Linked DNA regions of Homo sapiens. The protein of the gene in region 3 purifies or fractionates together with the protein of the main gene of each other region. This does not show direct contact. Each region holds a gene or a part of one and is shown on either strand. Other genes may lie near its edges. The genes, in order: NOL8, PDCD11, ZSCAN31, PNPT1, TRMT1L, PIP5K1A and BBX.

Region 1 (3,500 bases), on a different chromosome or scaffold from region 3:
GAAAGAAAAAAAAAGGAAGATTTGGAGCAGCTATCAATCCCAAGTAAACCGTGTAAGATGGTTTACAAAAAACACTGGCTGCTAATTTGAACAGGCAAACTTGGGACCTGCCTGTATTCCTTGCTACCTATGTCCCTTGAAAGTCCACCTCTGCTTGAGTTTTGATTTCTTTCTCTGTAAAATGATGGAGAACTATGCTTACCTAAGAGTTGTAAATGCACCTTGAAAATCATAAAGTCCTATCTATGTTAATTGCCTCCAAGAAAGGGGAAAAGAGTAACTGGTTTTAGACATGACACCCACAATCACGTGATCTCAGGCATCAGTTTCCAAGACCATGTAATTGGCTCAGGCTACAGAGGAGACTCACCTTATGCCCTGGCACTTCTGTCCCTGGCACAGCTTTCATATGGAAATCCACTCCTCCTGTCTTTTCTAACAAGTTGGCGTTACCTGTTGTTGATTCTTCTTTCTTAGCTTTTGCTGCTTCTCTCTCTTGGGCCAATCTGAATCAAAAAGAAAATACAAATAAAAGAGTCAAAATAATCAGCCACGTAAAATGGTTATTTCACTTTAGGTGTGCCTAAATGAGCACTATAAACAGCTTTGTAGTATTAAAAACCAAAATAAAACAAAAATGCTTTCTTAGTAGCATAATAGCTTACCTACTTATCTGAACATACAATGTTTTTATTATAGAATACTGGAAGACAGAACCGTTAAGAAAACAAAACATATTCCTTATCCCTCATCTTGTTAATATTTTGTTTACTTAACTTCATCTTTGTTCTGTATGTAAATATACATATTTTATAATGTAATCCAAATATCATAAGCACAGTTGGGTACACTTCATTTATCAACTTATACGTTCTTTGAAAACATCACTATGATTGCTGTACAACATGCCTTTCCATCAATCTACTGTAGTTTATTGACCAGTCCCTTACCACCAGCAACTGAGCTATACGGTTGGACAGCAGTGACAAGCTGTGCTGTCAGGGCTGTCCCACCAGAGCATGAGGGTTCTTTTCTTAGCCCATCCACTACACTACAGTCAGTCTCCCAAATCCCTGACATGCACGCTTATACCTGTGCTCTGCTCCAGTGGATGTCCCAGTTCCCCTTTATGGAAGACCAAGACCATGGATCGCAAGTTCTCTCAATTTTCCCCTTTCAATTTATATACGTTTGGCATTTTATATTATCTTCTCTCCATTCACTCTTCCCCATGACGAAGGTATCTTTCGGAGCCCAATTTGTTAGGTCTTGATTATCCATATCCTCCTAATGAAGAGAATGCCACCTCTTCTGATTCAAATCACCGCCACCTTCTTCAGGCCTGGACAACTGCACAGAGCAGTCCTCACTGGCCTCTTTGCCTCTGGTCTGTCTCCTTTATGTCCCAGAATAACCATCAGACCCATGCTTCTCAGGCATATCCACGCAGATACTCCAAGCAGCAGCACTGTGTGCTCAACCTGCTCAGCATGGGGCTCTAGTGCCTGTACACAGTAGGCTGGCAACTGCTGCTGGAATGAAAGGTATATAACCACCCTGTTCACAGTCCTAGGCTTCAGCTGAAGAACAAAATCAAATTCTCACCTTTTTCATAAGGCCAGTCCCCCAAAACATGCCTCAAAGTAGGTTGCTTGCCACTCGTTTTAGAATATATCTGTTCTTGTTACATTTCATTGGTCTGGAACAAGCTTATCAACTCTCCTGGTCATTCTACCTGTATATTCTTTTTTTTTTTTCCTTTTTTTTTGTTTGAGACAAGAGTTTCACTCCTGTTGCCCAGGCTGGAGTGCAATGGCACAATGTAGGCTCACTGCAACCTCCGCCTCCCAGGTTCAAGTGATTCTCCTGCCTCAGCCTCCCAAGTAGCTGGGATTACAGGAGCCCATGACCACAACCAGCTAATTTTTGTATTTTTAGTAGAGACGGGGTTTCACCACTTTAGCCAGGCTGGTCTTGAACTCCTGACCTCAGGTGATCCACCCGCCTCGGCCTCCCAAAGTGCTGGGATTACAGGCGTGAGCCACCGTGCCCGGCCTCTATCTGTATATTCTTAAATTGTTTCCTATTTTGAAAACTCCCCAACAATACCTTTTCTTCCTGAAAATACCTTTAGGATTTTAAAAGCTCTAATGGTTTTTATAATACATTGTCTTGCTCTTAAATCACTTGCATAATCACTCTTATGCCTGTCATACAGTGATCTCCTATTTCCTTTATATTTTGGTATGACACTAGCATTAACAGTCAAAATCAACATATGCAATTTAGTAGTCTACTAAAATTTAAATGCAGACAATGCTAAGATTCAGCAACTCCATTTTCTGATATAAACTGAGAGAAACACCTGCATATACATAGGATATGTGCTCCAGGATCATCTATGACCATGAAAAAGTAGAAACAGTCATCAGTGGGAAGGGACCACTACATTGTGGTATAACCATTTTCTGAAATACTACTAACAATTGTTATAAAGGGAGAAGATCTACATTGCCACAAAAGGGTGTGTTAACAAAGAGAAAATAAGTACATATATGCTTTTATAGCTCATTAACAGAGAAAATAAGTACATATATACTTTTATAGCTTATTACATACATACGTAAATGCATGAAATTATCCTTTTTGTTCGTCTGGGGTGAAGGGGATTCAGAGTTGAAAGGGATTTCAGCTCTACTTATATGTTTGAATTTGTTAAGAATATAATACTATATTACTTGATAATTTGAAATAATATATAAAACCACTTACAATATAAAAAAAATAGGGCTTAAATCCATGTGGAGCAAAACTTACCTGTGCAGAAAGCTTTCTTTTGCTAGTTGAATTTGTAATGTTCCACCTTTCCATTTTGTTTTATTTAAAACAGACATACCTATAAAGTAAAGAATTATTACAAGTACATGGCAATGTAAAAATATATTTCAGCTTGTGCTTTTTCTAATTATTTAGTATCAAGAAAAGCAGGCTTGTTTATCACAAAGAGATCCAGGGGAAGTGGAAGAAAAGAAATGAGACCTGGAGAGAGGGAGCCTAGGCTCTTGTTTCATCTTGACAACTTACCAAAAGAGTCTTTACACTCCCTATCTCACAGTGTTACTAGATTGGAATGAGGCAAAATGTGTAAAAAGTAAAGCAAAATTTATTTGCAATTTGTTTGTAAACAAATGTCAGGAACCTCTGAATAACTGATATTTAATGTATATTTTATTGTTATTTCCTGTAACTATAAAACATATATTTCCTGTAACTATAAAACAATCATCTTTTCAGGTGAATCAGAGGACACTCTGGAATCCTACAGCACCTTAATTTTATTTATCACCTCATACTAATTATCACTGTAGAACTTGCAGATGAATTAACTATGAGTGACTGAACTGTTTGAATTACTATGCCGTAGTAATTGATTTCTCTGAGCATCTGCCGTCAGCTTCCTTAATAATACCATTAACAGAATTTTGTAGGTGGTAGATACT
Region 2 (4,230 bases), on a different chromosome or scaffold from region 3:
CCAGCCTGAGTAACAGAGTGAAACATCATCTCTCCCCATCTCTTGAAAAAACAACAACAAAAATAACAAAAACATCAGCTGGGTGCAGTGGCTCACACCTGCCATCCCAGCACTTTGGGAGGTCAAGGTGAGCAGATCATCTGAGGTCAGGAGTTTCAGACCAGCCTGGCCAACATGGTGAAACCCCATCTCTAACAAAAATACAAAAATTAGTCAGGTATGGTAGCAGGCACCTGTAATCCCAGCTACTCACGCCACTGCACTTCAGCATGGGCAACAGAGTAAGACTTCGTCTCAAAAAAAAAAAAAAAAAAAAAACTGCTTCCTCTCCATCCTTAATCAACATGGCACATGGCAAAGAGTGTCTAAGAACAAGGAACAGCACTTTATTTATTTTGTTTGTGTGTTTTTTGAGACAGAGTCTCACTCTGTCGCCCAGGCAGGAGAGCAGTGGCACAATATTGGGTCAGTGCAACCTCCACCTTCTTGGTTCAAGCAATTCTCATGCCTCAGCCTCCCAAGTAGCTAGGACTACAGGTATACTACCATGCCCAGCTAGTTTTGGTATTAGTATAGACGGGGTTTCACCATGTTGGCCAGGCTGCTCTTGAATTCCTAGCCTCAAGTGATCCGCCTGCCTCGGCTTCCCAAACTGCTGGGATTACAGGCATGAGCCACTACGCCCAGCTAATAACAGTACTTTAATACTAAATGCCAAGCTTCAAAAGATACAGCCTTGTGGTGGTATGGCCTCTCTAAATGAGTTAAATTTATAGAAGTAGACTTCAATGCAAAAAAAATCTGGAAAAATAACACATTCTCAAATAAGGCTCATTTTTCACAAGACACTACAGTAAAAGTTTCCAGTGAGTGTCACCAAACAAGCATACTACTTACATCAAATAAGTTGTCTTGTTCAACTGACTGCTGGAAAGCTTTCTCTGGTTTGTGGATCTTTCTTGTACCTCCTCGGGGGAAGCTTTCTTCCAGGTTTGCCATGTTTGGGTCTCCTAAAAACAATGCAAAGGATAATGGTGACATGTTGTCTTGGTAGCAGATTTCAGAAAGGTGTTATCAACGGGCAAGAGACAGAACGTTCCAGCAATATGCTAGACAACATTCAGGACTACAACATAGATGGTTTAGATGTCAGGCCCGGAATAATCCATACTTCATCTTTCCAAAGGTCTCTGCTTCAAAACCACAAGTCCACCCACCTTCTTCCAGAAAAAGAAGTTATAGATTCAATGTAGCACATACTCACTAAGAAGCTACAGTTAAGTCAGAGATACACTGTAGCTCTACAGATGAATATATAATCCTCTGCCTTCAAAGAACATGCACACTTTTTGGAAGATAAAACAATTATGCAAGTAACTTAAAATGCAAATCAGATTATAAATGATCACAAAGATGTAGGAAGGGATAAGGCAATGTAGGAAGGGATAAGTAAAGGAGGCAAGCTTCATAAAGAAGATCTTTTTTAGCTTAAGGGTAAAAGATGAACAGAAGCTTGACAGGTAGAAAGGGAATGTGAGAAAAGACATGGATGGGAAAAGCCTATTATTTCAATAAACACCAGCAATTTCCCTATCAAACAACTGCTCAAAGGCTTGCTGTTGTCTCTGAGGAATTATTCAACTAGACCACTGGGAGATTAAAGCATAAAAATTGAAGTTAAATTTTAAAGAAGGCCGGGCACCATGGCTCACACCTGTAATGCCAGCACTTCGGGAGCCCGAGGCGCGTGGATCATCTGAGGTCAGGAGTTCGAGACCAGCATAGTCAACATGGCGAAACCCCGTCTCTACCAAAAACGCAAAAATTAGCCGGGCGTGGTGGCCTGCGCCTAGTCCCAGCTACTAGGCAGGCTGAAGCGTGAGAATTGCTTGAGGCCGGGAGGCGGAGGTTGCAGTGAGCTGAGATCATGCCGCCGCACTCCAACCTGGGAGACAAAGTGAGACTCTGTCTCAAAAAAATTAAAGGAGAAGTTGGGCTTTTTTGTGGAAGACCTTGAATTAGATATGGGTAGTTTGCTTTGGCAAGTCAGAGACTTAAGCAGGGAAAGCGAGAGAACAGTAAGCAAGAAAAATATACTGCAGGCTATAGATTGGACATGAAGAGAGACAGTATTGAAGGCAAGTAAATTCGGTAGAAGGATTCAAATGCACTGTTTCCTGTTATCTCAGTGACAGAAAAAAAAAAAAAAAAAAAGGATTCAAATGCAGTACAGCAGAGAAACCATGAGAACCAGAACTGGGTATAAGTGAAAACAGAAGACAGGAGAGGTTAGTTCTGACAGACACTTGGTAATAAGACTCTACAAGGGCTTTAGACTAAAGAAGTGATGACCGGGTGGGGCCAAGGATATGGAATCAGGGATGGGTATATGATTCATAGAAACAGGAAAGTTTGGGGGGTCTAGTTTGCTGATAATTTCACCCTTAATTTCCTTTCAAGCAAGGGGAAACTGAGGCTCTGAAAAGTAAGGCGATCCAGGGGCACAGAAGATACTTAGGCTACTTTCCGAACACAAAGCCTGGGGTTACAGGGGCTGCTACAACAGAGCCGGCTTCGAAGCGGGGCTAAGGTGGCCGAACCACACTCATCTAGCGTGTGCCTGGCAGGGAACCAGGCCTGGGACAGACCTGACAGCCATGAGGTTTCCTCCTTTTTCGCCTCTGCCTTTACTCACCAGCGCCACGGCGTCTGCACCCAGCTACCACTAACCTCGCGCCGCGGTACTCACACACGCGGAGACCAGGATACCCACAGTCCAGTGCAATTCTTCCGGAAGTGTGGGCGGGCTCAACACCCTACTTCCGTTGCTGTGTTGCGGAGGTGACCTAGAGACAGGAATCGGAAGGGCGGGATTTGGAGCCATAGCCAATCGTCGCATTAGGCCGAATCGCGGGGGCCGGCTAAACGCGTGCGGGGGAGGTGGCTTCTTCCGGCCGGGCCGAGAGGTGGTTACATTCGTTGAAGGACACCAGCTGCGGAATTTGCGGCTTTGGCAGGTGGGTGAAGAGGGGAGTCCGGGCTTGGACCTGGCGCCTGCACGTTGCAGGACCGCCCGCCGTTTCTGGCCGAGGAGCAACTCGAGTTCTTAGCTTTGGAGGAGAGAAACGGTGGGGAATGGGAAAGGAGCTAGAAAAAACGAGGGGCGCAAGGGGGCGGCCAGCGGGTGAGAAGCCTCGAGGTGAGGCGGATAGGTGCGCCCAAGGGCTCCCACAGTTTCCGAAGACCCTTAGATTGCATTCGCCAGTGGAGAAAAATGAGGCCCTCCGCGAAGCGTCCCTCGAGGTCACCCAGTGACGTAATATTGGACGAGGACTAGGGCTTCTGATCCCCATCACCGGCCGAATTAACCTCTTTTCTTCTGTATGTCCATAGCTGTTTGTTCCCACCGAGCTGTGCTTTAGGAAGCTGGCCAGCCGGGCCTCCTTTAGGTGCGCTGCAGCCTTTTTCAAAGCGAGTGAATGTGGCCCGGCCCCTACAGTTCGCCAGGCCCGCTGTAAAAGGGTTAGATTTCAGTCTATAGACGATCAGTGGGAAGGCCTTTCCTAGGAGGTAACCAGAACAGAGAGCTGTAAACTCCGTGAATGCAAGAGGCTGCTTCTGTTACCTGAGTGGTTCTCACTCATCTTTGCCTTCCTTACCTCGTGATCTCACCATTCCAGGTAGGTGTTAAGTTAGAAAGGAAAATAGCAATATCGAGGAACAGAGAAAGTAACAAGAGCTACTGGTCACTTTGGACCTTTAATAAAGTGCCCATCTCACAGGTGGAGAGAGGCACGGAAGGATTAGTTACATTTAAGAGCAGTTAGTGGCCGGGCGCGGTGGCTCACGCCTGTAATCCCAGCACTTTGGGAGGCCGAGGCGGGTAGATCACCTGAGGTCCAGAGTTCGAGACCAGCCTGAGTAGTATGGTGAAACCCCGTCCCTACCAACAATACAAAAATTAGCCGGGCGTGGTGGCGCGCGCCTGTAGTTCCAGCTACTCGGGAGGCTGAGGCAGGAGAACCGCTTGACCCCGGGAAGCGGAGATTGCAGTGAGCTGAGATCGCGCCACTGCACTCCAGCCTGGACGACAGAGCGAGACCTTGTCTCAAGAAGGGCAGTTAGCAACTTAATTAAAACATACCACCGTTTAACAACATTAAATCACAACTAGGAGTCTTACAAAGGGCACTGTAAACACAAGGGTTCCTTTATCTTTGCCCTAAAGTA
Region 3 (3,500 bases):
TCCCAAACTCATCACCCTTATGGTCTCTCTCCAGTGTGGATTTTCTGATGTTTCTTAAGAAGTGTCCGCTTACTAAAGAGTTTACTGCACTGACTGCACTGATAGGGTTTCTCACCAGTGTGGACTCGGAGATGCTGGAAAAGCCCTGCATTCTGAATGAAGGCTTTGCCACACTCACGACACTGATAGCGCTTCTCTCCAGTGTGTATCCTCTGATGCTGAACAAGGCATGAGCTGAGGAGGAAAGCCTTCCCACACACTTTGCATTCATATGGTTTTTCCCCTGTGTGGATTCTTCTGTGTCGAGTGAGGCCATTGCTGGCACTGAAGGCTTTCCCACACTCCTTACATTGATAGGGTTTCTCTCCAGTGTGGCTCCGCCGATGTTCATTCAGGCTTGACCTCCGGCTGAAGGCCTTCCCACATTCTTCACATTCATATGGCTTCTCCCCAGTGTGGATTCTCTGGTGCTCAATGAGTACTGAACTCTTAGTGAAGCTTTTCCCACATTCATTGCACCTGTGGCGTCTCTCTCCAGTGGAATGTGCCTGCTGCTTTTCTGCCTTGCTGTCTCGTTTACAAGTTTCTCTGTACTTAGAATCCAAAGATACATCTCTTTGGAGTTTGCTATCCCCCAAATGTTCCATTTCTTTTAAGATTTCTTGCTTTGATGCCAACTCCTGGTTCTCAGGTATACTTTCACCATCTGGAATAATAAATGGACCAAACAATGTAATCTCTTTCCTTTATGAAAGAATACAATCATAGGATGGAAATAGAAAGATCGATATCAAACAGACATGTTCTAGGAATGAAGAACTGTCAGTTAAGGAGCAGGTTGGGTTAAACAGGGATGTTTAGGCTAGTAGAGTAAGGGGTCATCAGCACTGCTAAAATGGCTGGAGGGAGCACCCAGAGGCTCCCAGTGAGGATGTACATAAGCAGGCACTATATTATATTCATTACAAGGCAGGCACTGTTCTAAGTGTTTTACATATGTTAACTTTTTAAATCTCAAATGACTCTGTGACTGAAGTGCTATGATTATCCCCACTTCAAATATGCATAAACTGAAGGCACAGGGAGGTTACCTGACTTGTCCATTGTCACAGAACTATTAAATGCAGCGTTTAAATTCCAACCCAGGCAATTTAGCCCCAGAGTCCACAGTCTTAACTATCGCCCTATATAGACCCACCAGAGATCTCCTGAAGGGACCTGTCAAAATCCTTACCTTGTTCTTGAAATTGGTGGAGGCAAAAAGATTCATATCTGAGCTGTGTCACCATAGGCTGAAGCTGTATGTCTGTTGGTTCCTGCTTGACCTTCAGATGTTCCACATCCTCCAAGAGCACTTCAGAATGTCCATGTTCATGGTCTGGAGCCTGAAGGCAGGTAGGCATATTTGGTTAAAGAGGGGGATTATAGGAGTACAAGCTAATACTAAATGAAAGATATCACATGGAACTATATGAAACATTTTCTAGAGAGATGTCACAGTGGAAGGACCAGAGTTTAATTCATTACCCAAAAGCAAAACAGGGAAGAGTGGCCCAATCAAGTGTGGTGGTTTAAAATAAATCCACCAGGTAGAATCTAACTGCCCATCCCCAACCCCCTGAATGTGGGCTGTACTTGATAGCTCAACTCTACTGAATAGAAAGTGAGGCAGACGAGATGGTATATAACTTCTGAGTCGTAAAAAGTATCAGAGAATCTGTCCTGATATTCATGTAGGTTCTTTTCTATTTTCCTTAAGCGTCAGCCAGCTTGAGAAATAAAGGGACAGAGTACAAAAGAGAGAAATTTTAAAGCTGGGTGTCCAGGGAAGACATCACATGTCAGTAGGTTCCGTGATGCCCCACAAGCCACAAAAACCAGCAAGTTTTTATTAGGGATTTTCAAAAGGGGAGGAAGTGTGCGAATAGGTGTGGGACACAGACATCAAGTACTTTACAAGGTAATAGAATATCACAAGGCAAGTGGAGGCAGGGTGAGATCACAGGACCACAGGACCAAGGCGAAATTAAAATTGCTAATGAAGTTTCGGGCACCACTGTCATTGATAACATCTTATCAGGAGACAGGGTTTTTGAGATCAACCGGTCTGACCAAAATTTATTAGGCGGGAATTTCCTCTTCCTAATAAGCCTGGGAGTGCTATGGGAGACTGGGGTCTATTTCACCCCAGCAGTCTCAACCATAAGAGATGGCTACGCCCAGGGGGGCCAGTTCAGAGACCTACCCCCAGGCGCACATTCTCTTTCTCAGGGATGTTCCTTGCTGAGAAAAATAATTCAGTGATATTTCTCCTATTTGCTTTTGAAAGAAGAGAAATATGGCTCTGTTCCGCCCAGCTAACTGGCAGTCAGAATTTAAGGTTATCTCTCTTATTCCCTGAACAATTGCTGTTATCCTGTTCTTTTTTCAAGGTGCCCACATTTCATATTGCTCAAACACACACGCTGTACAATTTGTACAGTTAATGCAATTATTACAGGGTCCTGAGGCAATATACATCCTCCTCAGCTGACAGGATTAAGAGATTAAAGTAAAGACAGGCATAGGAAATCACAAGGGTATTGATTGGGGAAGTGATAAGTGTCCATGAAATCTTTACAATTTATGTTTAGAGACTGCAGTAAAGACAGGCATAAGAAATTACAAAAGTATTAATTTGGGGAACTAATAAATGTCCATGAAATCTTCACAATCTACATTCTTCTGCTATGGCTTCAGCTGGTCCCTCCATTTGGGGTCCCTGACTTCCCGCAACAAAAAAGCACTGTGGCTTTTTCCTTTCTCTCTCTTTCTCTCCTTCTCCTCTCTGGAGGAAGCCACCTGACATGTTGTGAGGGCACTCAAGCAGCCCCATGAAGAGTACCAACATGGTAAAGAACTAAGACCTCCTGCCAACAGCCAGTGAGTAGCTGAGGCCCCCTACCAACAATTGTACCAGTAAACCATCTTGGAAGTGGATCCGCCCACCTGAGTCTTGTCATCAGATGACCATAGTCTTGGCCATTAAGGTTTAGGGGTAATTTGTTACACAACAGAGAACTAATACATATAGCTATAGCCAACCAACCTGTGTCACCAAACCCCACCTTTCATTTAGTATTTAATGTCTAGAAGTCCATCTTTCTCCTCTCACCTGGTTCCCTGGCTCACTAAGCTCTTGTTCCAGATCTTCAACTACAGCCACAGCCTCCTCCCCACTCTCCGGATGGTGCTCCCGCACCCAGGCCTGGAGCTCCTCAGGCAGGATAGTCAGGAATTGCTCCAGCACCAGCAGCTCCAAGATTTGCTCTTTGGTGTGGATTTCTGGCCTTAGCCACTGATGACAGAGTTCTCGGAGCCGGCTCAGAGCTTCTCGGGGACCAGGAGTCTCTTGGTAACAAAACTGCCTAAAAAGTTGTCGGGAGGCTTCTTGGCCAGAAAAGTTGTTCCCTCGAAGGTGGGTTTCTTGGTCCCAGATAGGGTCTTCCTCCACTTTCACA
Region 4 (3,500 bases), on a different chromosome or scaffold from region 3:
AAAAAAAAACACATTAAACCGTACTGACAGAGTTGCTTTACAGTTCAAAACGTTTGAACTAATATAGATAGCCATTCAATATGTTTTCAAGAAAAATCCCCTTGGACTGATTTACTAAGAGGGACACAGATAAATGTCAGTGCTTCCATTATTACATACCATGCCCTAACAACAAAAAACAAACACAGAAGAAGCACATTAACAATAAAGATTGGGGAGCAATTTTTCATTCTGGTTCCACAGGCAACAGTTACATATATAAGCAGAGCAAAGAGACTTAAGACCAATAGCAGACCAAAAGAAAATGCTTCCTTGCTACTTTGTGTCTGAAGACTGTATATAAATATACATAAAATAGCAATTTCTGGCCGAGCACAGTGGTTCACGCCTGCAATCCCAGCACTTGGGAGGCTGAGGCGGGTGGATCACGAGGTCAGGAGTTCAAGACCAGCCTGACCAAAATGGAGAAACCCCATCTTGACTAAAAATACAAAAATCAGCCAGGCATGGTGGTGGGCACCTGTAATCCCAATCACTTGAACCCGGGAGGTAGAGGTTGCAGTGAGCCGAGATCGTGCCACTGCACTCCAGCCTGGGTGACAGAGCAAGACTCTGTCTCAAAAAAAAGCAATTTCTGGGTAGAAGAGCTATAAATTACATATGATCCCACAATATGTAGGGATGTTAAAGATTTGAAAGATTATGGACATATTTCAGTAGCTGATGAACATAATGTTTAGGAATTACTATTCTGAACATGAAAAAATGTACTAGGAATAGATTCAACAAAGTAGAGGCATGGGCCAAAAAATTCATATGCTCAATAGAGATTTACTCATTTAGTCAACAAATATTTATTGAATGCCTATTCTGTGCTAAGCAGTATAACAGGTACTAGGGATTCAACCCTGAAGAAATAAAAGTTTTTTCTTTCACAGTGCCCACATTTGAGTGAGGGAAGAGAAGGAGTGAATAATCTTAGGTGGTGTTAATGCTATGAAGGAAAACTTAAGACTTATTGTAGAACACAGATGCAAGAGAAGAGATGCTAACATAGGCATACCAGAGAAGATGAACGCCTCTATGTTAATATCTTACCTATTATTCGACTTGTTAGAATTTCTTTATCAGAAGTACCAATCTCTCTTCTCAGATAGTTTGTGGGAATTCTACCTGCTGCAGCAGCTTTTTGTCTGTAGTCAACCTGAAGCAGCAATAAAAAAAAGTTCATATAATTCTTTTTGCAGAAACAAACTATACTGTATGAATGCTAATTCTCCTGAGGTTGCTAACAACACAGTCTAGACTCAGAGTAGAAAATGTTATTTACTTAGCATTTTGTATCTTTTGGGGAGAGGAAAGTTGATAGAAATGTTTCTGCAAAGTGATTTTAAAAAACGTTCAGGTGCAGTGGCTCACGCCTGTAATCCCAGCACTTTGGGAGGCCAAAGCAGGAGGACCACTTGAGGCCAGGGTTTTAGAACTGCCTGGGTAACACAGAAAGACCTTGTCTCTACCCCCAACAAAAAAAAAATTAGTTGGGCACAATGGCCTGTGCCCATAGTCCTAGCTACTCAGAAGGCTGAGGTGGGAGGATTGCTTAAGCCCAGGAGTTTGAGGCTGCAGTGAACTATGATCACACCACTGAACAACTCTAGCCTGGGTGACAGAGCAAGACCCTGTCTCTTAAAAAAAAAAAAGTCTTCTACTCAACAGTAAAAGTGGAAGAAGACTCACTATTTGCCACAGATGCTCATTCTGATCAAGTCAAACATTGCTTTTTTTTGGTATCAACTCTGTTAAATATAATTGTACACCCCTTTTCATAATAGAAGGGAGCTATAAAATTCTCATGAGCTCATTACTAAATATACACAGTTGTCTCTTGGTATCCCTGGGGGATTGGTTCTAGGACCTCTTGCAGATATCAAAATCCATGGATGCTCAAATCCTTGATGTAAAACACCATAGTATTTGTTTATAACTTACGTATATCCTCTCATATACTTTAAATCATCTCTAGATTACATATAATCCTTAATACAATGTAAATTCTACATAAATAGTTTTTATACCGTATTGCGTAGGGAATGACAAGAAAAAAAGTCTGTACATATTCAGTACAGATGCAATTTTTCCCCCAATATTTTCGATCCATGGTTGGTTGAATCCATGGATGCAAAACCCAAGGACATGGAGGGCTGACTGTACTTGCAGAGTCATACTGAAGGGAAACTATGAGGGCAATGAATTCATTGCTTATTCAATGTCAAAGTACTCATGCACTTCCAATCTTCTTGTCAACTTACGCACCTGGACGTTCCAAATTCTAAAGTATGCTTAATCCTAGTATTTGTTTATGAAGCAGTTTATACTCTTTTAATGAATCAGTATCAAAAAACTAGGAAAAATTCTTTGTTGTGCAAGTTTGTATTTTCCACTCACTAGACACTGGACAAAAATATTATACATTCTACACTTTACTCAGACCATATTACAGTTCAGATAAATCAGCAAATACTTACCACCAAAGGCATAAACTGGGAAGGGGAAGGTTTTGTTTTACTGACCGCTGTGACCATTACTGCAGTGTCACCTGACTTAAACATAAAGAACAACGCTGGTAAGTTCCTTTGAAATCAGATATTAGCATCTAAGTAGCAACTGAATAAATCCTTACTCCAATTAAACTCAAGAAAAGATATCTAATTCTACGACACGATTATGAAATAAAAAATATTCACAAGTAGTCCAATCTTGATCTCTGAGCTTTTCAAAAGCTATGGAATCAAAATAAGGAAAGATTAACAGGTAATTTAGTCATATTCAATGAATTGAATAGTATTCTCTACTTCTTATGTGGCTATACATAAGGAAAAATTCCCCAATTATTACTATAGAAGAAAATACCAAAATCACTTTCTCTAGAAAAGCACAACAGAATTTATTAACGCATAAAACAGAAGCCCAAGTTTGGAAAGGATGTTAAACGTCACTTAATACGGCTGGGCACGGTCGCTCACACTTGTAATTGCAGCACTTTGCGGGGGCAAGGCAGGTGGATCACGAGGTCAAGAGATTGAGACCAGGCCAGGCGCGGTGGCTCACGTCTGTAATCCCAGCACTTTGGGAGGCTGAGGCAGGCGGATCACGAGGTCAGGAGATCAACACCATCCTGGCTAACACGGTGAAACCTCGACTCTACTAAAAATACAAAAAATTAGCTGGGCGTGGTGGCAGGTGCCTGTGGTCCCAGCTACTAAGGAGGCTGAGGCAGGAGAATGGCGTGAACCTGGGAGGCGGAGGTTGCAGTGAACCGAGATCGCGCCGCTGCACTCCAGCCTGGGCAACAGAGTGAGACTCCATCTCAAAAAAAAAAAAAAAAAAGAGATCGAGACCATCCTGGCCAACATGGTGAAACCCCGTCTCTACTAAAAATACAAAAATTAGCTGGGTGTGGTGGTGCACGCCTGTAGTCCCAGCTACTCGGGAGGCTGAGG
Region 5 (4,065 bases), on a different chromosome or scaffold from region 3:
TAGTGCTTCAAAGTGCCAAATAATCATGCTATCTCTTCCCCGGGGTTCTGAAACAAGTAGGAAACAAATAGACCAAGAAGATTGGCGTTTATCAACTTAATTAACTAAGAAAAGCTAACTGGAAGCGCGCGTCTTGTTCTTGAGACTAAATTGGGCTTCCCTCTCCTGCCCTGATGCCTAGAAGGTTCGGACCAAGCCCAAGCAGGGCAGCCAGAAAGTTCACGTTTTTCTCCTTTCTGTCCCAGTGGATTTATCGCGGGGGGACAGAAGAAAGAAACAAGAAAGGCTCGAATGTCAAGTAGGCACTAAGAGTGAAGGGGAGAGAAGTACGGGGGACAGGGGACTCGCTAGCATATGTTTTGGGGATCTGAAACGCATCAAAATTAAATGCCCCGAAGCTCTACCCACTCAGAGCTCTGGTTATTAAAAGCCTGAAAACAAAGCAAAATAGAGCAAAACAACTAATTTCTATCCACTGGCCACACCGCAGAACTGCTGATACTGGCAACATGAAGACTAAAGCAAAAATAAAAACAAAGGAAAAGAGTGTTCGGGTCACGGTGTAGGTGAGGGTGCGAAATGAAGAACAGACCCTAATTCCAAGTCAGCTGGATGGACAGGCAAGCTCGTCAGCTGCTAGTAAACCGCCGCGGGCCCGCGGGCTCCGCACGAACCGACCAGACCCCAACACCGGGCAAGGGGCAGCCCCGGAGGCAAGCCGGGCCAGAACCACACCCTCCACGGAGCTGGCTCGTCCCCGGACCCGCCCACAGAGTCGCCCCGCCCAGGTCCGTGTGACTCCTGAGTCCCCAGTCCGGCCGGCCGCCCGCCCGCCAGTATACTTGGGGCGGGGGACGAGGGGGAACCTGCCCAGCAAAACGTCAACGCACCCCGCAGTTCCTACCTTACCAGCGCCGGCGGCAGTGGCAACTCCGGAGCCCCAAGCCAAAGGAGAGGGACCCCCGCCTCCCAACACACACACACACCCCGCCCCACCAACTGTATGCCTGCTGGGAAACGTAGTTCTGCGCCCGCATCCGCACTACCTACTCACCGCCCCACAGCGCTCGCTTAGATTTGCATTTACTTCCTCCGAGGCTTGAACTCCGGCCCCGCCCCCAGACTGCGCAGTGTATCCTGGGTGCTGTAGTCTTTGTTCGGTTTGGTGGTTGGCCGGTGGGCCGGAGACGCACCGTAGAAACCGAACCCTCTTACCCAATTGGACGCCGTCCCCAGTACGCTTCTGCGCAGTTTGTGGTGGCGTCGTAACGCCTCGGGGAAAGGGAAGCGGACGGGCATCTGGAATCGCTGCCTCTGGCTTTCTGTTTTCTACTAACAGGATTTGGTCACTGGTTCTTCATCTTTTGTCTGTTGCACGCATCCCGCCCTCCCCACTTGCTTCCCCACTCCTTGGATCCAGCCCTGTGGGCATTCACGTCAGTTCTCTGACCCCGCCGTGAGCCCCGCTCCGGGTCCCCGGGCGGGCTTGGCACGGAGGCGGTAACTATGGAGAATATGGCGGAGGAGGAGCTGCTGCCCCTGGAGAAGGAGGAGGTGGAGGTGGCCCAGGTCCAGGTCCCGACCCCGGCCCGGGACTCGGCTGGGGTCCCAGCTCCGGCCCCGGATTCGGCTCTGGACTCGGCTCCGACTCCGGCCTCGGCTCCAGCCCCAGCCCCTGCCCTGGCCCAGGCTCCGGCCCTGTCCCCGTCCCTAGCCTCTGCCCCTGAGGAGGCTAAAAGCAGTAAGTGCAGAAGGCCCAGATCTTTCTGCTGCAGAAGAGAGAAAGTGCGCCTTGCTGGGAAGTAGGGGAGGCCCTTCACCGGGATGGTTTTTATGGGGCAAGGCAGGTTTAGGAAAATGGTGGGGAGGAAAGAGGGGCCCGTGTAGCGGCTAAAGCAGGGTTACAGAATGGGAGACGGCATCTTCATAAGCCTCGAGGATGTCACGGTGAGGGATATGCGGAGAGCAGGAATGCTGCAGATAGAAGGAAATAATGAGGTTAAGGGCTTTTTCTTAAAAGGGAGTCTTTTTAAGGTACAAAAATAGGAAGTTACACATAATTTGGTAGTTTCCCGCAGTCCAGTCTGCCATGGTTAACTAAGTTCTTTCAAATGTGACATAGTAACCGAGGCAACCTGTTTACGGTAGTAGATCCTAGCTGCCAACATTTCTAAACCATTACTGTCAACTAGCTTTTCTGCTTCGACAGCCACAAGGAGATGAGTTTTTCTCATTTCAGTTTTCTTTTCCCCCGCTAGCAGCTTGCCTCCGAAAAGATTTTGAGGCTGAGTAGTAGTTTAGGAAAGAGTCGACTAAATTTACGGATGTTTTCCCCCATACATAAATACCAATTGAGTTTTGTACTCCATTCCATCAGAAATAGACTGTTGAGAATTAATGGCCCATATTATTGTGCTTCTGAATGTGCCTGCATGTTTTCTAAGTGGTGGTTTATTGGACCATATAGGAATTTAAAAGACTGATGAGTAACACTTTCTTAAGGATCTTCTAACATTTTAAAATGTAAGGTCTAAGAAAGACATAATTTAAGTTCTTTTAACATTTAGTTTGTGGTCATAAGTTGACCTTTATGTGCTTTCTGAATTGGAACTTAAAATAATCTTTAATTCATTATTTTTTCTACTTCTAGGCCAGTTTTGAGTTTAATATTTATAAAAGGTTAGATAGTTATAGATAGGATTATTTTGCAGTTTTGAAACAACATACAAATTGTTATAGATTTCAGAGTAGGGCTAATCACAGGAAAGACAAAAGTCAGAATGCTTCAGGTAAGCCCCTTCTCATTATATAAGATCAGAGCTTGTAGGTACAAAATAAGGCCAGTTGTTTCTTCAACTACAGTGGGTAGGGATCGGGGAGGCATGGGGAGCTGAGAGGGTTCCACCCTCCTAAGTAGCCTCCTACCTCACTTCGAAGTTGTATTTGTTTATATTAGTCAGAAGTGGTTCAGCAGCTTTGGGAAATGCATGCATTCTCTACCTCCTCACCATCAAAAATATGTTAAACATAGAAAAGACTTATCTATATATTCCAAAATTTACAAATATGTAATTTGAAGAAGGTATACTATATGGGAAACTGAAAATGCATTAGTAGGACAAATATGTAATGATTGAGAAGTCTGAAATGCATTAGAACTAATACATATATTAATCACATTTTAAACATTATTTTTAGTTGATCTAGTTAGTCCTTTGAAATCAGTCATAACTAGGTAAGATGAAGATAGCCTATCTGAAATAGAATTGAAAATTGAGGAAAAAGTAATAGAATAAGTTGTAAAAGACCCTCCTAGCATCTTGGAGACATCTAATTTAACAAGAAGTTTGCCTGTTGACTTCTGGATTAATAGTGTGTTACAAAAAGCAGATTGAGTATTTTGCATACAGATTGTCTGATACGCACTATCTTAAACCAGAAGGTGATTTCAGAGATGTTTATAGGCATATCATGCATTTTTAAACAGATCTTCAAGAGTTTCTTCAGTAGTAGACCACAGGATTTTTAGTTTTCTAACTTAACCAAGCTCCTTTCTCTTATTTTGTGCTATTTAATAGAATAATTTCAATAGGCACGTCTTTATTGATTGCTGTTTATCTTGTTTTACATACACAGATCTTTGAACTCTGGAACCAAAAGCCTTTATGGTTACAAATTAGATAGGTTAGTTTGTACACATGGATTCATTTCTGGAATATTGCTGTCTGACCTAGCAAAAGATTTTTATGAAACATGAAGAAGTTTTACCTGTTTATAGAAATTATATCTCATTATAACTCATTTGACCAGTATCTGATATAGGAAATTAACCAATATTGTTTGTTGCTTCTTTAAAAATGAGGTGAATAACCAGGCACCAGCCTATACTCCCAGCTACTCAGGAGGCTGAGGCAGGAGGATTGCTTGAGCCCAGGAGTTTGAGGCTGCAGTGAGCTATGATTGAGCCACTACATTCCATGGAGGCTGGGTGACAGAGCAAGACCCATCTTTAAATAATAATAATATGAAAAATTACCTTTTAATAAATTTGAGCAGGAGTGTCTG
Region 6 (3,240 bases), on a different chromosome or scaffold from region 3:
GAGGCTGAGAAGCTACTAGATTTAGAAGCACACTGTTTTAATTAACCATATTTAGCTTCTTGAATACTATAAAATATTTCCCAGTACCCTGCCCTCTTCTGTTTCAATCTCCAGGTGTCGTAGGTACCCTCTAAGATTGCCCCCAATAATCCCTGCCTCCTGAGATCCATGCCATTGTGTAATTCTCTCTCAAGTGTGGGCTGCATTTAGTGATTCTCTTCTCATGAACAGAATGCAGCACAGGAGATGGAATGTCCATTCTGAGATTAGATTACAAAAATACTGTATCTTCTTCTTGGACTCATGCTCTAGCCCCTGCTTGCCTGCTCTGAGGAAAGCCAGCTCCTATGCTATGAGCTGGCTATGGATAGGGCGATGTGACAAGGAACCGAATACTGCCAACAACCATATAAGTGAGCTGAGAAGCTGATCTTCCCTCAGATAAGCTTTTGGACTAATAGCTTGACTGTAATCTCGAGAGAACCCGAGCCAAAGGCATCCAGCTAAGGTACAGAAACTGGGATAACAAATTTTTGTTTTCTTTTTGAGACAGATCTCGCTCTGTCGCCCAGGCTGAAGTGCAGTGGCACTATCTTGGCTCACTGCAACCTCTGCCTCCCGGGTTCAAGCAATTCTCTCGCCTCGGCCTCCTGAGTACCTGGGATTATAGGCACAAATCACCACACCTGGCTAATTTTTCTATTTTTAGTACAGATGGGGTTTCATCATGTTGGCCAGGCTGGTCTCGAACTTCTGGCCTCAGGTGATCCGCCCTCCTCGGCCTCCCAAAGTGCCAGGATTATAGGTGTGAGCCACCACACCCAGACTGAGATAACAAATGTTTGTTTTCAACAGCTAAGTTTGGGGGTAATTTGTTACACAATAATAGATAATACAGACTTTTGTACCTGGAATTGAGGTGCTGCTATAACAAAAATCTAAAATTTGGGGGTGGTGGCCTGGTGCAGTGGCTCATGCCTATAATCCCAGCACTTTGGGAGCCTGAGGCAGGCAGATCATCTGAAGCCAGGAGTTCAAGACCAGCCTCAGCAACATGGCAAAACCACGTCTCTACCAAAAATACAAAAATTAGCCAGGCATGATGGTGCACGCTTGTAATCCCAGCTCCTCGGGAGGCTGAGGTAGGAGAATCGCTTGAACCTGGGAGGCGGAAGTTGCAATGAACCAAGATAGTGCCACTACATTCTAGCCTGGGTGACAGAGGGAGACCCTGTTGGCAGAGACTGCAGTGAACCAAGATCGTGCCACTGTACTCCAGCCTGGGCAACAGAGTGAGACTCCATCTCGAAAAACAAAATCAAAACAAAACAAAACATTGGGGGTGGCTTGGAGGAGCATTTTAGTGAAAAGGTAGTGTCCTGAATATGCTGTTTATAGAATTTTGGACTTAAAGGGGGTTACCAGTGAGGGCTTAAAGTGAGAAAAATTTTATTGGAACTTGAAGGAAAGGAGATCCTAGTAAGGCAGCAGCACAAAGTTTAGCAACAATGTGATTTGTGATTATGTGAGAAGTAGAATATGTGCCTAATGAATTGGACAATCTAGCTACGGAGATTTCCAAGCAAAGTCCTGAAGGTGCCACCTGGTTTTCTCTTGATGCTTATAATAAAATATAGGAGAAGATAAAGAAATTATGGGAAGGACTATTAAACAAAAATGCCAGAACTTGATAAGTTTTGAAAATTCTAAGCCTCTCCAGAGAGCAAACGATGCTAAAATTAAGAAATGGCAGGCCACATACGGTGGCTCACTTCAGGAGGCAGAGGGAGGAGGATTGTTTAAGACCAGCCTGGTTAACACAATGAGACATCTCTACCAAAAAAAAAAAAAAAAAGGCTTTTGAGCAAGGATAAGCTCCAGAGCACTGCCAAGAAAATGTGGTCTAAAGATGAAGGCAAACATATGACTGTGAAACATCTTATTAAGACCTCAGAAAAACAAAAGGTATTGGTTCAGAGTATAGTCATCCCTCAATATCTGTGGGGGACTGGTTCCAGGACCCCTCCTTGAATATCAAAATCCACAATGCACAAGTCCCTTATATACAATGCTATGGTATTTGCATATAACTCACACACATCCTCCATATACTTTATTTTTATTTATTTTTCTTTTGAGACAGGGTCTCGCTCTGTCACCCAGGCTAGAGTCCAGTGGCGCGATTTCGGCTCACTGCAACCACTGCCTCCGGGGTTCGAGCGATCCTCCTGCCTCAGCCTCCTGAGTAACTTGGACTACAGGAACATACCACCACGCCTGGCTAATTTTTTTGTATTTTTGGTAGAGATGGGGTTTCGCCATGTTGCTCAGGCTGATCTTAAACTCCTAGGCTCAAGTAATCTGGCCGCCTCTACCTCTCACAAGTGTTGGGATTACAGGCGTGAGCCATCACGCCTGGCCCTCCATATACTTTAAATCATTCCTAGATTATTTATGATAACTAATACAATGTAAATGCTATGTAAATAGTTGTTATACTATATTGTTCAGGGAATAATGACAAGAAAAGTCTGTACATGTTAAGTACAGGCCTAACTGTACAGTACATATCAGCAACAACATAACATTTTCACGACTTTTTTTTTTTTTTTCAGTATTTTTTCGTTTCTTTCTTTTTTTTTTTCAAAGGGATGGGGTCTCGTTATATTGACCAGGCTGGTCTCAAACTGCCTCAAGCAATCCTCCCACCTCAGCCTCCCAAAGTGGTGGGATTACAGGCATGAGCCACCACACCAGGCTCTCAAGTATTTTCAGTCCACAGTTGGTTGAATCTGGGATGTGGAACCTGTGGATACGGAGGGCTGATTGTGCTATTCAGTCATACAAAAGGCTGTTCAGAAGATTATGTTTCACAGATCCTTTCAACCGAAAAACAGAGTCTGTAAGAAGCTTAGGTCTCATAAAGAAGATATTTATGAGTGTGGCTTTTGTCTAATGGAGTAAATCCCAAGGAGAATCACAGGAGGCCCACAAAATCTTCTGTATCAGTAGAAACACTGCCATCTTGGATCAAAAAGGACAGAAACAGTACAAAATAGAGACCACTAGTTCCCCTAAAATTCTACTGGAAAGAAGCAGCCTGAGAAAAGAACTCAGGTAAAAACACACTCTAGCTTTGATGAAAAAGGAAGACTCAGAAGACAAAACCAAGAGTCTAGAGGGTAGAGCCAAGAACCACGGAGAATTATTCTTCTGCTTTGAGGCCTGATAAAAGAAACT
Region 7 (2,939 bases), on a different chromosome or scaffold from region 3:
CTACAGGCCCTATGACAATATTTTCATATATACTCTCTTTTCTTCACCACAGCAATGGTATGAGGAGGTATCATCACTATCAATAAATCTGAATTAGGGAGGTTAAAAAAAACCCAATGGTACATGGGTAGAAGAACTGTCTGAATACAAAGTCTATTTGTTGATAATTAATACTGTGTGCATGCATGCGTGTAGTTTCCAAAGGATTAAAAAAAACAACTTAGGAACATTGTATTCACCAAATCTGAGGTGCGAGTTTATACTTAGGTAACACTCTTAATGAAATCGCTTCCACAGTTTTGTCCCAGTTCAGGGAAAGATGGTGTGTTCTGATCACTAGTCCCAGAAGCGCACCCCAGAAGCGTTCACCCAAGTGGCGTACTGAAGCATATCCTCTTCTTCTATTGGGCTGATCATCACTCTACACTTTTGGGAAAAGCAACCAAGGCTGTCCAGACAATGGCAAATCACAGGCAAACACAGTTTAGGGGGACACATCATTCGATGTTCTAAAATAGTTGAAATATCTTACTTTTATTAGTATTTTTCCTACTGTTTTTAGTGAAAATGGTACATTAAAGGCACATACTCTACGGCCAGTAGTGTGAACATAAAGAAATATATTTGAATAATATCTTTAAAATATTTCAAAGTTTTATTAAATATTTTTATTCAGTTTTAAGATCACAGTTAAAGTACTTTAGCATGTTATACACATGACTTACATGTGCAATTTTTAGAAATATCAAATTAGGTATAAGATTTTGAAGAAAGAAATTATATAAATGTGTATATTGACTTTTACTACACATACATCTAAGAAAGCAATAATTCTGTTGTACCATTAAGTGGAAATCATTTATTACATGGCATGTTTACACCAACTCTAAAGAGAACCAAGCCAATTTCTGAAAGCAAAAAAAAAAAATGAGCGATTCAGTCATGCTGAAACTGTCAACAGACTTTAGACCTGGTGGTCAAATGAAGCTGTGGTTAATTTATGACATGTGAGTAAGCAATTCAAACCTACGAGAAGAGTTTATAATCTGGTATGTGGAGTCTCAGGTGATTTTATTCTTTTTTCTGACAAATTCCTGAGAGCAAGAGACTTGTTTAGTGCTAATGAAATGGAGAAAACGTTGCTGAGCCAGTTGCTGAGCTCCAGATCGCAAACCTTCCCTACCCCCCGTTCCACGGCTCTTAGAGCTGAGGCACTCATGTGAGGAGTCAGGGGACATGAGCCCACCCCTCTGGTGGGCCACAGAGCGAAATCAGTGTTAATGCATGAAACATGCATGTCTCTGTGATTTAGGTTAGAGCTTGTGAGGTAAGATTTGCATTGTGGGTGGAAGAGTTTTGAGGCATTGAATTAGATCCTTGTTACTCAGTAACCACCTCTGGCCCAAGTTATCAGGAAATCTTTGGAGGGAGCAGTAATGTTCACAATAACTAGTTCTGTGCATAAAAATCGATTTAAGCACATGATCAGTTTTGACCACTGACTGCAAAAAGAAAACAGCAGCCATATAATTTTTAACCACAAGGTTTCCTCTCTCAATTTAACAGTATGAATCATACCACCATAGATCAAATTTGGCCAGAAGAGGAACCTTTTTTTTTTTTTTTTTTAAAAAAAAGATGCACATTTATATATTTGAAGGAAGGGTAGCACATACAGATGGGGATTATGAGGGAGTCAAATACATTTGTCTTTTTATTCACGCTTGTTGCTTCTTTGTTCTGAAATATAAGGAAGATAAGGTCCTCAGTGAAATGAACAAAGTTGTTTAATATAGAGTATAATAAACTTAGCTATCACTTCCAAACGAAAGTAAAGCAGTCCATCAAACCCTGAATACTTCGCCAGACACATCTGGTAAGATGAACTGAACAACAGCTTCTTTTAAAATTGTAAGTATGCTGTTAGTCAATCTAAATAAGATAATTTTTAAAAATCCAAAAACTCAAAACAAAATCCAAATCTAGTTCTTTGGGAATGCTTGTATAAACAAAAGCAACATCTAATTAACAATTAGTATACTTTTTATAAGGTGCAAAATAAGGAGCTATTTGGGAAAGCTAAGTTTTAATTTCTACCTAGCAGTCACTCTGAATACTTTATAGGTCAAATGTAACAACAGCATTTGCTTCTACTGCCCATTTTCAGCAATACATTGTTCTCTCTGGAGGAGGCAGTTTGTGAAGTCAAAACACTGCAGTGGAAAATAGTGGCACTGAAGGTAGAAGCAAAAAAAGACAAACTTTTGAAACAGGACTTACTGAAATTAACTTTTAAAGCCGAGGTAGCCCATTAGGATTGGCCTTATATGAGGGCTCTGTGGAGCAGTGCAATTGAAGGTGAATCTCCTCAACAGCATCACACCCCGCAACATCCCCTTTACAAATGATGGCTCCAGGCCTCCTGCAATTTCCTTCCTTTTCCCAGATGAAGTGGTGGGTGCTTCTCCTTTGCTGTATGGAATGCCATCCTCCAGCCTCCAGCTGCTCGTCTTCAGAACATTTACGATTCATACAGTAGTTTAGCAGGCAGCATGGTCCCACTGCTTCACATTAATGTCAAATGCCAAACTTGGAACAGAGTTTTTTGGTATTTTCCCTCCCCTCCCCACCTTATAAACAAAACATGGCATTCAGTTTTCAGCTTACTCCTGTTCTGTAGCAATTTGTAATTAGCTTGTGACTTTACATAGGTGCAAACATTTCCATACATTGAGCCAAAGACTGCAGAGTGCAAACAAAATTTTATCTGACTTACAGTAGCATCTGACTTAATAAGAAAACAAAAGGATTTGAACACATTGGATTCTAAATAACCAGACCAGTTCAGATGCTCCTTTTTGTTCATAGTGTTCCATCATTATTTTGTTTCTCCAGCAATTTTAGTGGCAGGAAGTAGAATCACAATGATAACGTGGGAA

The links.
Region 1: the proteins of ZSCAN31 (region 3) and NOL8 purify together in Homo sapiens (affinity purification with mass spectrometry; one large-scale study listed by BioGRID and IntAct). This does not show direct contact.
Region 2: the proteins of ZSCAN31 (region 3) and PDCD11 purify together in Homo sapiens (affinity purification with mass spectrometry; one large-scale study listed by BioGRID and IntAct). This does not show direct contact.
Region 4: the proteins of ZSCAN31 (region 3) and PNPT1 purify together in Homo sapiens (affinity purification with mass spectrometry; one large-scale study listed by BioGRID and IntAct). This does not show direct contact.
Region 5: the proteins of ZSCAN31 (region 3) and TRMT1L purify together in Homo sapiens (affinity purification with mass spectrometry; 2 studies listed by BioGRID and IntAct, with this or other methods). This does not show direct contact.
Region 6: the proteins of ZSCAN31 (region 3) and PIP5K1A purify together in Homo sapiens (affinity purification with mass spectrometry; 2 studies listed by BioGRID and IntAct, with this or other methods). This does not show direct contact.
Region 7: the proteins of ZSCAN31 (region 3) and BBX purify together in Homo sapiens (affinity purification with mass spectrometry; 2 studies listed by BioGRID and IntAct, with this or other methods). This does not show direct contact.

What each region holds. Positions count from the first base shown.
Region 1 is NC_000009.12:92,318,851-92,322,350, forward strand, and holds part of NOL8 (nucleolar protein 8), read right to left. Parts: intron 2,897-3,500; coding exon 2,818-2,896; intron 1,288-2,817; exon of another isoform or gene 1,093-1,287; intron 507-1,092; coding exon 371-506; intron 1-370. UniProt on the Homo sapiens protein: Plays an essential role in the survival of diffuse-type gastric cancer cells. Acts as a nucleolar anchoring protein for DDX47. May be involved in regulation of gene expression at the post-transcriptional level or in ribosome biogenesis in cancer cells.
Region 2 is NC_000010.11:103,395,196-103,399,425, reverse strand, and holds the start of PDCD11 (protein RRP5 homolog), read right to left. Parts: upstream 2,801-4,230; 5' UTR 2,696-2,800; intron 1,011-2,695; 5' UTR 1,000-1,010; coding exon 898-999; intron 1-897. UniProt on the Homo sapiens protein: Essential for the generation of mature 18S rRNA, specifically necessary for cleavages at sites A0, 1 and 2 of the 47S precursor. Directly interacts with U3 snoRNA. Involved in the biogenesis of rRNA.
Region 3 is NC_000006.12:28,326,149-28,329,648, forward strand, and holds part of ZSCAN31 (zinc finger and SCAN domain-containing protein 31), read right to left. Parts: coding exon 3,155-3,500; intron 1,386-3,154; coding exon 1,235-1,385; intron 707-1,234; coding exon 18-706; 3' UTR 1-17.
Region 4 is NC_000002.12:55,683,845-55,687,344, forward strand, and holds part of PNPT1 (polyribonucleotide nucleotidyltransferase 1, mitochondrial precursor), read right to left. Parts: intron 2,601-3,500; coding exon 2,526-2,600; intron 1,205-2,525; coding exon 1,099-1,204; intron 1-1,098. UniProt on the Homo sapiens protein: RNA-binding protein implicated in numerous RNA metabolic processes. Catalyzes the phosphorolysis of single-stranded polyribonucleotides processively in the 3'-to-5' direction. Mitochondrial intermembrane factor with RNA-processing exoribonulease activity.
Region 5 is NC_000001.11:185,154,154-185,158,218, reverse strand, and holds the start of TRMT1L (tRNA (guanine(27)-N(2))-dimethyltransferase), read left to right. Parts: upstream 1-1,265; 5' UTR 1,266-1,506; coding exon 1,507-1,741; intron 1,742-1,746; exon of another isoform or gene 1,747-3,684; intron 3,685-4,065. UniProt on the Homo sapiens protein: Specifically dimethylates a single guanine residue at position 27 of tRNA(Tyr) using S-adenosyl-L-methionine as donor of the methyl groups. Dimethylation at position 27 of tRNA(Tyr) is required for efficient translation of tyrosine codons.
Region 6 is NC_000001.11:151,243,552-151,246,791, reverse strand, and holds part of PIP5K1A (phosphatidylinositol 4-phosphate 5-kinase type-1 alpha), read right to left. Parts: intron 1-3,240. UniProt on the Homo sapiens protein: Catalyzes the phosphorylation of phosphatidylinositol 4-phosphate (PtdIns(4)P/PI4P) to form phosphatidylinositol 4,5-bisphosphate (PtdIns(4,5)P2/PIP2), a lipid second messenger that regulates several cellular processes such as signal transduction, vesicle trafficking, actin cytoskeleton dynamics, cell adhesion, and cell motility.
Region 7 is NC_000003.12:107,808,901-107,811,839, reverse strand, and holds the end of BBX (HMG box transcription factor BBX), read right to left. Parts: 3' UTR 501-2,939; downstream 1-500. UniProt on the Homo sapiens protein: Transcription factor that is necessary for cell cycle progression from G1 to S phase.